Linked DNA regions of Homo sapiens: region 1 is linked to region 2. The links come from fine-mapping of genetic effects on gene expression. A gene starts in region 2. The other region holds a variant in brackets. All regions are shown on one strand. Distances are between the middles of the regions. Region 1 has its middle 37 kb from the start of LPIN1. Region 2 holds the start of LPIN1 (lipin 1).

Region 1 (5,374 bases), 36 kb before region 2:
AGAGGTGGCAGGAGGTGAGTCCGGAACCGTGGCCAGACCCCCTGAGGCCACTGTAGGGCCCTGGAATTTACTGAGCAGACCGGGGAGCACGGGAAGTTTTGAGCTGAGGAGTGGTGTGATCTAACATTCCAGAAGGTTCCTGTGGCTGCTGTGAGGAGCAGAGCTGATGAGGAGCAGAAACAGACTGGCTGTGGAGCCATTGCTGGAGCTGCGGGAGAGAGCAGCGTGGCTGGGACTGGGTGGTGGTGCACGCACGGGGAGAAGTGCTCGGGGTCCCCCACTGGAGGTGGAGCTGCAGGATTTGCTTGTGACTGGATGTGGCTTGGGAGGGGAGAAAGGGAGTGGCTGGGGCCTGTCCCAACCAAGCGCTGCTGCTTCTGTGAGCACCACAGGTGCTCACCTGCCTGCTGGGATGGACCTTACCATTGAGCCAGGCATGATTACTTCCTTCAAATGACTCTTCTGATGTGTTTCAATGATGAGTGAGTGGTCTCCGCTAATTATGACTGGGTAGGCCCCTTAGAGAAGCCTGGCTGGACTTCAGGAGTTTCATGTGAGAAAATCCTGGGGAAGTGAACTGAACTGGGCTTCACTGAGAAAGATCCTGAGTGATGATCACAGTTTCACATCAGATCCGCATCCGAGACCAGCTGTGTCAGGCAGTGGGGCAGCAACCTTCACCTAGACCCTTGGAGGTCATCTCTCCTAACTAACAGGACAGAGAAGGAAACTAGGCCCTAAGAGGAGCAGTGATCTGCCTTCAGCCACCCAGGGAATGGGCATTACCCTTCACTGTTGGCCCCCCGACAGCTGGAATCCAGCAGCTTGACTCTCATCAATTTCACTTTTTGCCTACTGCACTGTGGCCTTCTCTTTGGAATGCTGAGTCAGCACAGAGGAGGGTGATTATTTGCCAAGGGGGGGACTCTGAGAAGGCCCCATGGAGAGCTGGGTTTTGAGTCATGGAAATGACTCCAAGGACAGATTTGGGTGGAGGGTCAACCTTCGACTGGGAGGAAGCAGGGGAGCCTAGTCACTGAGATGGGAACCCTGTACATGTCCCGGGAGTGGAGAGTGAGGCATGGGAGAGGAGCTGAGGCAAGGGGGCAGGCAGGAGTGGATCATGCAGGGCCATGCATGCCAGACCTGGGCCTTAACTCCTGGGCAATGGGGAGCCATGAAAGGTTTTCAGTGGGGAATGATGTGGTGTGATGTGCTCAATGGAGCAGGAGGCACAGGAGATGGAGACCAGCTGTGTTGCACTTGGCCAGTTAGGTACCCTTGCTTTGGTATAATCCAGGCATTTGATACGTAAGAAAGCTGACCCAAAGAGGGGGAAAAACTTGCCAAAGTCACCCAGCAAGCCAGGGTTAGAGTTAGAACCCAGTTTATCCACCTCTCAATGGGAGGAAGGGAAGGTGATGATGATGATGTTGGTGATGATGATGACAATGATGATGATAACGAATATATATTGAGCACTTGACATTAAGTATCTTCTTTAATCCTCACAAGGGCCCTATGACAAAGCTACTACTATTATTATTGTTATTATTGTTCCCCTTTTATAGAGGGGAAATGGAGGCTCAGGAATATTAAATGAATTGCTCAAGACCACACAGATGGTAAGTGGTGAAGCCAGCATTCTACCCTAGATCATTCTACACAGTTTGACTCCAAAACCCATGCTGGGGACCACAAGTGGTTATCTCATCAGATTTGCCAGAACTGTCCCAGGAGGAGTCCTCTTACATAAAACATCATCCCTTTCACCCCATCTCCCCCCTACTCAGAGCAAACCTTCCTTTATCCTCTTCCTTTATCTCAACAGAGGGTACCAGGCTACCAAAGAAAGGGGGTATCATTGTTGGAATCATGGTGTAGGAGGGTGTATGCATGTAGATGCAGAATTTTGGAGATGAAAACCCTTAGAAACCACTGAGTGTAACTCGAGCCTCCGTTAGATGGAAAAACTGAGACCCAGAGAAGGGCGGTACCTTGTCGATGCCTTGCAACAAGTTAGCGACACCAGCGCTAAAGCCTGGATTGCCTGATCCCCAGGCCAGGGTTCTCCTCTCACATTTTGGACAGTTCCCACACATTCCTGGAATCCTCCATTGGACTGTGAATGGGTTTTCCCATGAAAGCAGACTGTATAAACCAACCATAATGCTTTTAGGTCCCGAGTTATATGCTGCCATTGTTTCTTCAGTAATGCTATAGTTTTCTCTGCCTCTCTTGTCCTGGAAAAGCTGACTTTGGTAGTACCGTTTCTATATGAAAATGTTACCCTGCTTTTACAAAAATCTACAAATGAACGTTGGACAACCCATTTGTAAACTGGGAGCAGCCCACGACTTTGAGCCTGATAATCTGGAAACATTACTCTCTGAATTCTCTCTTTTCCTTCTGTGTTTGTGAGATTTCTGCTGTTTAAATGTTGCACCATCAATGAAACAGCAGCAAGAGCTTTGGAGTCCCACAGACCTGAATGTGAATTTGGACGTAGGCTCCAGATATGTGACTTCCAGCAAATCATGGCAAGAACGGTAGCAGTGAGCCCAGCTACATGAAGATTACAAGGAACTGTGACCTGGGTCTTAATCTTAATGAGGCT[G/C]TGATGGGAATTCAATTTCAGCTTCATTGAGTATCTGCCGTGAGCTGGTCACTTTCAAGTACATTTTCCATCTGACTCTCATAGCAGAACTTACATAGCAGAGTGAGATTATCTTTCTCCTACCCTTATAAGGGTAGTAATCCAATTTCTGAAGGCTCCATCTTCATCACCTAATCAGCCCCCACCTTCTGCAAGACCACACCTCCAAATACCATCACCTTAGGGATTACAACTTCAATATATGCATTTATGGTGGCAGGGGTGTGGGTGGGGACACAAATATTTAATCCATAGCGTCACATAAGTCTATGTTAAATGAGAAAGAAAAGGAAGAAAGAAATCAAGACAAACAATAGAGTTGAGAAGGAGGTTAACACAAGCATGTGTTTCATGGAGTCTGACTCACACCGAGAACAGGAATGTGGCTCTGGCAGCCAATGCACTGAACAAGGACCTGAACAGTCATACAGCTCAAGGTTCAAGCAAGGTAGAAGCAAACCAGCTGCTCTGAAGATGCTCACCTACTTCTGACCTTGAATCTTCCACTTCATGACCTTCATCCAGGAGTAGCCACTGACATCTGTATGGTACGTTACTGTTTTCACAGTATTCTGTCTTTTGATTCTCACATCAGTTCTATGAGGTAAGTATTTTATTGTTAGCCTTTCTTTAGAAATGAGAATATTGAGGCTTAGAAAGGTAATTTCTTGCCAAAGGCCACACAGCTCCTAGTAGAAGAACTGGAATTCAAAGCCAGGTTCATTTTTGGCTTCCACCGTGACTGCCAACTGCTTGATGCCAGAATCCAAATGGCTGAGCTTCACACTTTATGTTGGAATTTTGAATTACAACAAATAGTTGTGGGCAGAATGAGCCTATTTTCTACTTAGCTGTGAAAGAAATTATTGTTGAAATATACTGGGTCACCATTTTTGGTGTTCTTGTGTTTATATTTAATCTCTGAATTCAAACCAGACTCTTGGGGGTCAGAGATATTGCTCCTCTGGCAGTCCAAGAATATATCTTGTATTTGATTTAAAACTTCATTTTGAATCAGGGCCAAATCCAAACACTGTGAATTTAAACTGCTGGCAGCCTTCCTAGCCTACCTCGTGAGTGCAAAATCAATCCAACTATTGTACACAGAGAATTCTGGTGCCCGTGTGACTGTGTTGGTGGCCCCTGAAGAATTTGGGTTGGATGGTCCAGAATATCTGTACCCAAGTTGCATGACTTTTTGCAGCATGCTGAAATATTCCACAGGAGCTGAAATAGAAGCAGCAACTGGATTCCAAGAAGTGTTTCAAATGCATTGCTCAGTTGAAATGAGGACTTCATTAGCTGCCATATTAAGCAACGTATAGATGAAGAAATCAATGGCCTTACCCCTGCTACCCCAGCAAGGATCCAGATTGGATACAATCCTATAACACACATCTGCCTTCTTTCCCTGGTTCTGTCTTAAAGGAAAATCTATCCTTTTTATTTTGGGTGTGGTTCCAAGAGACTAGAATATTCCTCCCTAAATTCATCCCTCTTGCTTTCCTAATTTAGTGAATGATATAATCATCTACCTAGTCACCCAGACTAGAAACTTCAGGCATCCTTGAAAATTCCCTGTACTTCAACCCCCCAATCCAAGTTGCATATCATTTCCTGGTGATTCCATCATGTGGTTGTGTTCAGAGCTCATCTTCCTCTTTGTCCCACTGTCATCACCTTGGTCCATATCCCAGCGATCCTTTGCTAGAATAACCTTCAAATTCACTTCTCTGCCTCGAATCCATCCTCCATGCGGAGGTCAGTGTGGTCCTTGTAAGACACAGATTTGATCATCCCTCTCCTCCTCTGTAATCCCCAGTGGTGCACAGTGACTGCTCTCACACTGCTCTGAGAGCCTCAGGTTTTCTGTAGCCAAGACTCCAGTCCCCTTCCCCATTTGACCATAGCCATTTCCCTTTTTTCTAATTACATAATGTGCTCCAGCAAGAGTTGTTGTTTGAGGAGGGCATTCTTAAAAAAATGAAACTGGCCGGCTTAGAGCACAAGGCCAGAGGTCCTCCTGGGAGCACGCGAGGCCTTCGCCATGCCGGCCTCACTCACCCCTGCCTCCTTGCCCCCTGATCCCCCCGGCATCCCCTTATGCCCACTGCATGTGCTCAACTACTCTGGAATCATGAGGGGCACCGTGCTGTTCCCAACATATGTGCGATGACTTTGTTATTTTGAATATGCTCTCTGCTCTGCCTGGAGCGGCCTTTCTTGTCCTCTCCTCTCCCAGAGTTCCCACTCACCCTGCAGAGGCAGTTCAACTGTCCCCTCCTGCAGAAGGCACGAACCTTCCCTACATTCCCCACAGGCAGATGCTTGGCTGCCTCCTCTGTGCTCTCTCTGGACCCTGGGCATATCTTGATGGTAGCCCTGGCCACAGAGATCTTTGTTACTTGTCTTCCTGCCCTCCACTAGCTTATGAGTGACTTACGGACAAGATTTGCATCTCATTTGTTGCTGTGTTCCCAGTACCTAGCGAAGTACATGACCCCTAGAGCTATTCTATGTCATGATGTAAAGCAACACCATTAACTAACAGTCAGTCAACAAATATGTGCTGGAAAAGCTAAGTGGGTCAGATGAATATGAGGTGGGGTGCAGGGCCAAGGAGGAACAGGACAGGGGAAGAGGTTTAGGGGCTTCTGGGGCTGTTTATTCTGGGCTGCTGGCAGTTGAACTCAGAGCACACATGTTTTTGAGTATAAT
Region 2 (5,374 bases):
CCTGCCACCAAGGTAGTGAAGCGGCACCAGGTGGCCCCTGGTTCCCACCTGGTTCTTAAGAGAGTGCGCAGGACAAAGTCACCTCGTGAGGGGCCCCCAACCAAGGAGTGGCCTTAGACCCCGAGGAGATGCCCTCCCTTCCCCGGAGCCCCAGGCACTGGTGCCAGGGATAAAAGTCTGCACCTCTAGGGGAAGAATTCATTGTCCTCTCTTTGGGATCCTTTCTGCCCGGGCAGTTACAGAGCTAACCATGCTCAGAGTCCTGGGGGATCAGCCAGTGTTTCTCCTTCCTACAGTAGCTCGCAGGGCACCCGTGAAGAGGGATGCTCATTCTTCCCGCCTACCTTGCCCCAGGTATTCTGGGCCTGTGTAGGTGGTTGATCTGGACAACTTCAGAGTTCTCGGGATACAACAGCTACTGTCACCAGCTGGGCTCAGCAGTGAACAGATCCTTCTGGGAATGGCCACTCCTCAACTTATGGGGTTTTAGAATTGAAAAATCTTCCAACCCCACAACTGTGACAGCAGCTTCCCATGATGCCTTTTTCATCCTCAAAGCAGATCTGTGTCATGTGCACCTGCAGCCCATTTCCTGGATTGTGAAACTGAGCCTCTAGAATCAGGATGCTTGTGCTGGCTTTGCTAAGGCATTACTCAGCCCCTCCTTCCTCCTCCAGTCAGCTAGAGCAAGATTACTCATCCCTGGAGTTCCTTCTCCTCTTCCGAGTGCAGCTAGGTCCTGGGATTGGCCAGGGGGATCGCCTCAGCTCTCCTGGCTGAGTCACTGCTCAGTCAGGCCTGGTTGCTGATAGCACAGCCAAGGGCCCTCCCAGGGGGACTCCAGCCAGTGCCTGATCAAAAGCGCCAGGGCTTTGGAAAGTCCGGTTTCGTTTATCGCCTGGGAGTGCACTGTGATCTAGTGAGTGTTTTCTTCTCATTGCTTGTTTATACAAAAGGCTCCCCCCAACCCTTGGCCTTCCCCGAGGTGGTAGGCTGGGCAGCAGCGGGACCTAATTTGCTCTGAATCCAGCCAGACCCTGCTCATCAGAGCTGACCCTAGCCGTGCTGGGCCCCCCAGCTCATCATTTTCAGAATGAGGGCTTTGAGTTGAATTGTCCTATATTTTCAGACCTCCCATCTCCACATTTGAATAATGGACTTATTTTACACAAAAAATAAACTTAAGTGGCCTGAAGTTGGACTGGCTTCCTGGAAAGCCTTTCCACATAGAGTAGACTTCTTCCCAGGCCAGCTCCTCCCTGGAGGTGGGAGGGGAGGGTGCAGGAGGGCTTCCTTCTGGGGCCTTGCAACCTCAGCAGTTTTGGGCAGCCGTGATGCACTTGAAACTCTGGTCTCTGAGAAAACCCCTGTGGAGGTAGCTCACCTACAAACTGCAAGATTCTCTTTGTGTAGCTCCCACGTCTGCAATGTCAGCATGGGACAGGCTGCCTAGATAGGAGCTGCCCCAAGCCCAGCGGGAGCGTGTCCACACTTGACCAGATGGACGGGAGCCGCGCCCCTGGACAAAGCTCTCCAAGCAGCTGTCCCCAAACATCTATCTCAAGCTTGCTGGCTTATCCAATTCACTAAGCTGCCGCATTCGATGCTGTTTCTAAGCTGGCCTCCTCCCTGGCCCTCTGCATCTCAGCAGAGCAGCGGTTCCATCTCCACACTGAGACTTGCCTTTGAGTATCGCATCACACACCTCCACCGGTTCCATTCATCAGTAAGCCTGTGGGTTTTGCCTCCAAATCTCTCTGAAGTCCTTCCGCTTCTTGCTGAGTAGCCCCTGTAATCTGAGCCACCATCATGTCCCCCGGTTTCCTGCAGTGCCACCTGTCTGCTGGCTTCTACTCCTGCAGTCCATTTTCCATGGAGTGGAGGGGTGACTTTTTAAAGAAGTAAATTAGATCATATAATTCCCAGGTTTAAAATTCTTTTTGGACCAGGCGTGGTGGTTCACACCTGTAATCTCAGCACTTTGGGAAGCCAAGGTGGGAAGACTGCTTGAGCCCAGCAGTTTGAGACCAGCCTGGGCAACATAGGGAGACCTGGTCTCTACAAATAGTTTGAAAAATTAGCTGGGCGTGGTGGCATGCACCTGTGGTCCCAGCTACTTGAGAGGCTGAGGCAGGAGGATTGCCTGAGGCCAGAAGGTGAAGGCTGCAGTGAACCGAGATTGTGCCACTGCACTGTAGCTTGGGTGACAGAGTGGGACCCTGTCTCAAAAAGAATTGGTTTGGAATAACATTTAAATAATACCTAAACTCCTTGCCTTGGCCTACAAGACCTGAATATTTGGCCCCTGCCTTCCCTCCAGCCCACAGCACCGGCCCCAGGACCTTTGCACCTGCCATTTCTGCTCTCCAGAAAGCCCTGCCTCCTCCCCATCTTTGTAGTCATAGGTGTTTCTTGTCATTTAGAGTTTCAGTTCAAATATGACACCCTCCCATTGATGGAAATCATTTCACCACCAGACGTTATGTGGCTCATTGTTTATCCGCTGCCTGCCTCCCGGCTGGAGAGGCGCAGGGAGCTGCCTGTCCCTCCTGTTCAGAGCCACCGTTCCGCACCTGGACCACCGCTTGGCAGAGGCGGGAGTGGAGGCTGTCACCATCAGGATGAAGGACAGGGGTGGCCCGGCGTGGAGAAGCTAAGAAGAGATGGCGATAGGTCAACGCGATTGCGCCTTTAAGGTGGAAGAAACGAAGGGCGAGGGTCAGTAAAGTCAAGGACGGGCTCAGATCCCGCCACTGGTGATAAGCGGGACCCATAGGACCGACGTGATCGCGGCCAGGCCCTGGGTGGTTTACCTGGACTTTTACCTGGCTGCCTTTTCTCTGCACCCCTCCGTCCTCACTCCCCCAGTCATCGGCATAGGTCAAGTCAGAGTGTTGAAGAAACACACGAGTTTGGCTCTGGAAAGGAAAATCAGAAAGGCGGCCTAAGGGGCCCCACCCCCAGGAACGCTAAGATAGGCGGCCAGGGGTGAGCGGGCAGGGCCGGCCAGCAGGCCCTGAAAGCAGCCGGGCCACCAGCGCGTCCCGAGTCCCCCTCGCACCGCCCCGCTTGCCCCGCCCCTGCCCTCTGCCCCCGCCCCTGCCCCGCCCCCGAAGGCGAGCTGCGCTGACAGCCGGCGGCGGGCTGGGTGTTTGCAATACAAAGGCGGCCACGCGCGGCGCCGCTCGGTGAGTAGCCGCCGCCTCCAGCCTCCCGCTGTGGAGCAGGGGCCGCAGCCTCGGGTTAGGCGGGGCGGGGCGCGGCGCCGGGGCGCTGAGGACGCGTGGCGAGGCGGGGGCTCGGCCCCGGGGCCCGAGGACCGACGGCCGGGCTACGTCCCCGGGGCCCTCTACGGGAAGTGGTTCGGGGGAGGGAGGCGGGGAAACAGGCCCCGGAGGCCGGGAGGGCCTCGCGAGCATCCCTCGGGCCTGGCTTTCCTGACGCGCCGCGAGGCCCGGTGTGGGCCCGGCTTGGCTGATCTCGAGCGGCGTAGGGGCCACTGGGGGCTGCCGCGCAGTCCCAGAACCGCGGGGACTAGCTCCAGCCGGCCAGCGCGGGTGCGTCCTGGCTCTGCGCGATCATCCCCAGCTTTGCGCCGGGGACTGGGATGAGAGCCTTTCTTTCCCCCGGAGTTAGGATTCCAGCGCTGCAGTTGAGGAAACTGAGGCTCAGGGAGGTTGACCTCTGTGCCCAAGGTCATACAGTTGCCGGGCGGCAGGGCAGGCTGAGCCCAGGTTGGAATCCCGGTTCTCATATTACAGCTCTCCCCTGCGAGGCCTCTGCACCTTTCTTGCAGCCTAGGAGGTGCTAGGCCTAGTGAGCTCCGTCAGCTGCTCCTGCACGTAATTTTATTATGGGCAAGGCCAGGAAAATGCAGGATGAGAAGTAACGTTTTGGGAGTAACTTAAGTGCTGTGGAGCTAGAGTAGGTAATTTGTGTGGTCAGTAGTTGCTGGAGAAAGCAGATGTCAACCCTGTTTTTGATCAGCAAGCAGGAAACCAACTAAGACAACTGGCAGTATTAATTTGGAGATGTTTTAGAACCCGGCAGTTTCCCACAGGATAGAAGTGTTTTGGGAAATCAAAGCTTGTAGCCGTTTTTTTAATTGGGGGTGTTGTGGTATGGTGGTCTAGGGGTAGTGATTGTGAGATTGACTGTTTATCCTTTGTTCCGTAATTTGGGTCTTATTAATGAAAGTAAGCAGTTGAGGAATGTATAGTATTTGAGAAATAAGCACATCCACACATGAACACTTTTCTTGCTCCCAGATTCTTGTTGAAAGGTGTAACAGTTGGATTTATGATTATATACTTTGATAGCACTTCACGTTTGCCAGCATTTGTTATTGAGTGTTTTTGTGCATGGGTTGTGTGTTTTGGCGCTTATTATTCCTATTTGCATGTGGGGCCCTGTGGTCCTGTGGAGCCAGGCCTGGATATAGCCCTGGACTCGGGTCGGGAGGTCTGGGCTCTGCCTGAGCTCTGTGGGACCCTGAGCGAGTTCTTTCACCCACCCAGGTCTCGCTTATCAGCAGTTCCTTTCTTTTAGAAAAGCACAGGGGGACAAGGGGCGGACCTGCTGAGTCTTGTGGTGTGGGAGAGAACGCGAGGGTTCAGGTGAGAGACCGCAGGGATTCCTGGTTGTAGGGGGGACCTTGGAAGTGACTGAGAAGGAGCCTGCCCTGGATTAGGTGGGGACAATTGGCCTGGCCCAGCCAGAAGGAAGTCTGTGGGTCCTGCTCTCCTGCTCTTTGCGTGGTCAGCTGCACAAAGGGCCCAGAACAGACGGCAGGGGAGGGTCAGGAGATGAAAAGATATTTCAGAAGAAGGTCCTGAGGCCACCGTGGTCTGAGATGCGCCGAGGCCGGCACAGAGCACTGGGCTTTGCAGTTGTTGTTCTGACCACTCACAGATGTAGAACTTGGGCAGAAGACTTCAATCCTCTGAGCCTCAGTTTTCCCATCTGTAAAATGAAGGGATAATCATACCCATTCACAGGATTGTTGCAAAAATTAATTGAGATAAAAAAGAGCCCCTGGAACATAATATGGGGTCCACGAATCATTGTGGTTGTTATGATTTTAAAGTGCCACAGGGTGCCAGCGAGGAGGGGCTCTTTGTGGGGTTGGGACAGTCCTGGCTGACGCCGGCCTCTGCTCTGTAAATCATCCCTGTGGGACACCCCCTCCCCCTGCCTGCCACCTCTCTTCCGGTTGGCTTTTCCGGACCATCTGTGTACTGGGTTCAAGGCCTAAAAGGTACCTAAATGAGGTTAATTGATTTGGGCAAGCCTGCCAATGGGGGTAGTCGAGGGGTACAGGCAGCTTTTTCCTTAGGGTGGGAGGGGGCTGTTGCACGGATGTCGGCAGCTTTTG

What was found. PIP is the estimated chance that this variant, and not a neighbour inherited with it, causes the effect. A credible set is the group of variants that fine-mapping cannot tell apart.
Region 1: its variant is the best candidate, but not a certain one, in a credible set for the expression of LPIN1 in whole blood (INTERVAL, PIP 0.70).

The regions. Positions count from the first base shown.
Region 1 is chr2:11,707,394-11,712,767 of GRCh38, forward strand. It overlaps a transcript of LPIN1 not described here. Among named protein-coding and RNA genes, the nearest start is that of LPIN1, 37 kb to the right of the region's middle. The variant G/C (reference allele first, on the strand shown) is at 2,618.
Region 2 is chr2:11,743,484-11,748,857 of GRCh38, forward strand. It overlaps LPIN1 (lipin 1), which reads left to right and starts at 3,149. Exons shown (of 21, transcript NM_001349206.2): 1 at 3,149-3,188. It overlaps LOC124907735 (a long non-coding RNA gene), which reads right to left and starts at 1,976. Exons shown (of 2, transcript XR_007086220.1): 1 at 345-1,976. RefSeq lists enhancers at 1,316-1,889, 4,401-5,072 and a silencer at 2,828-3,397.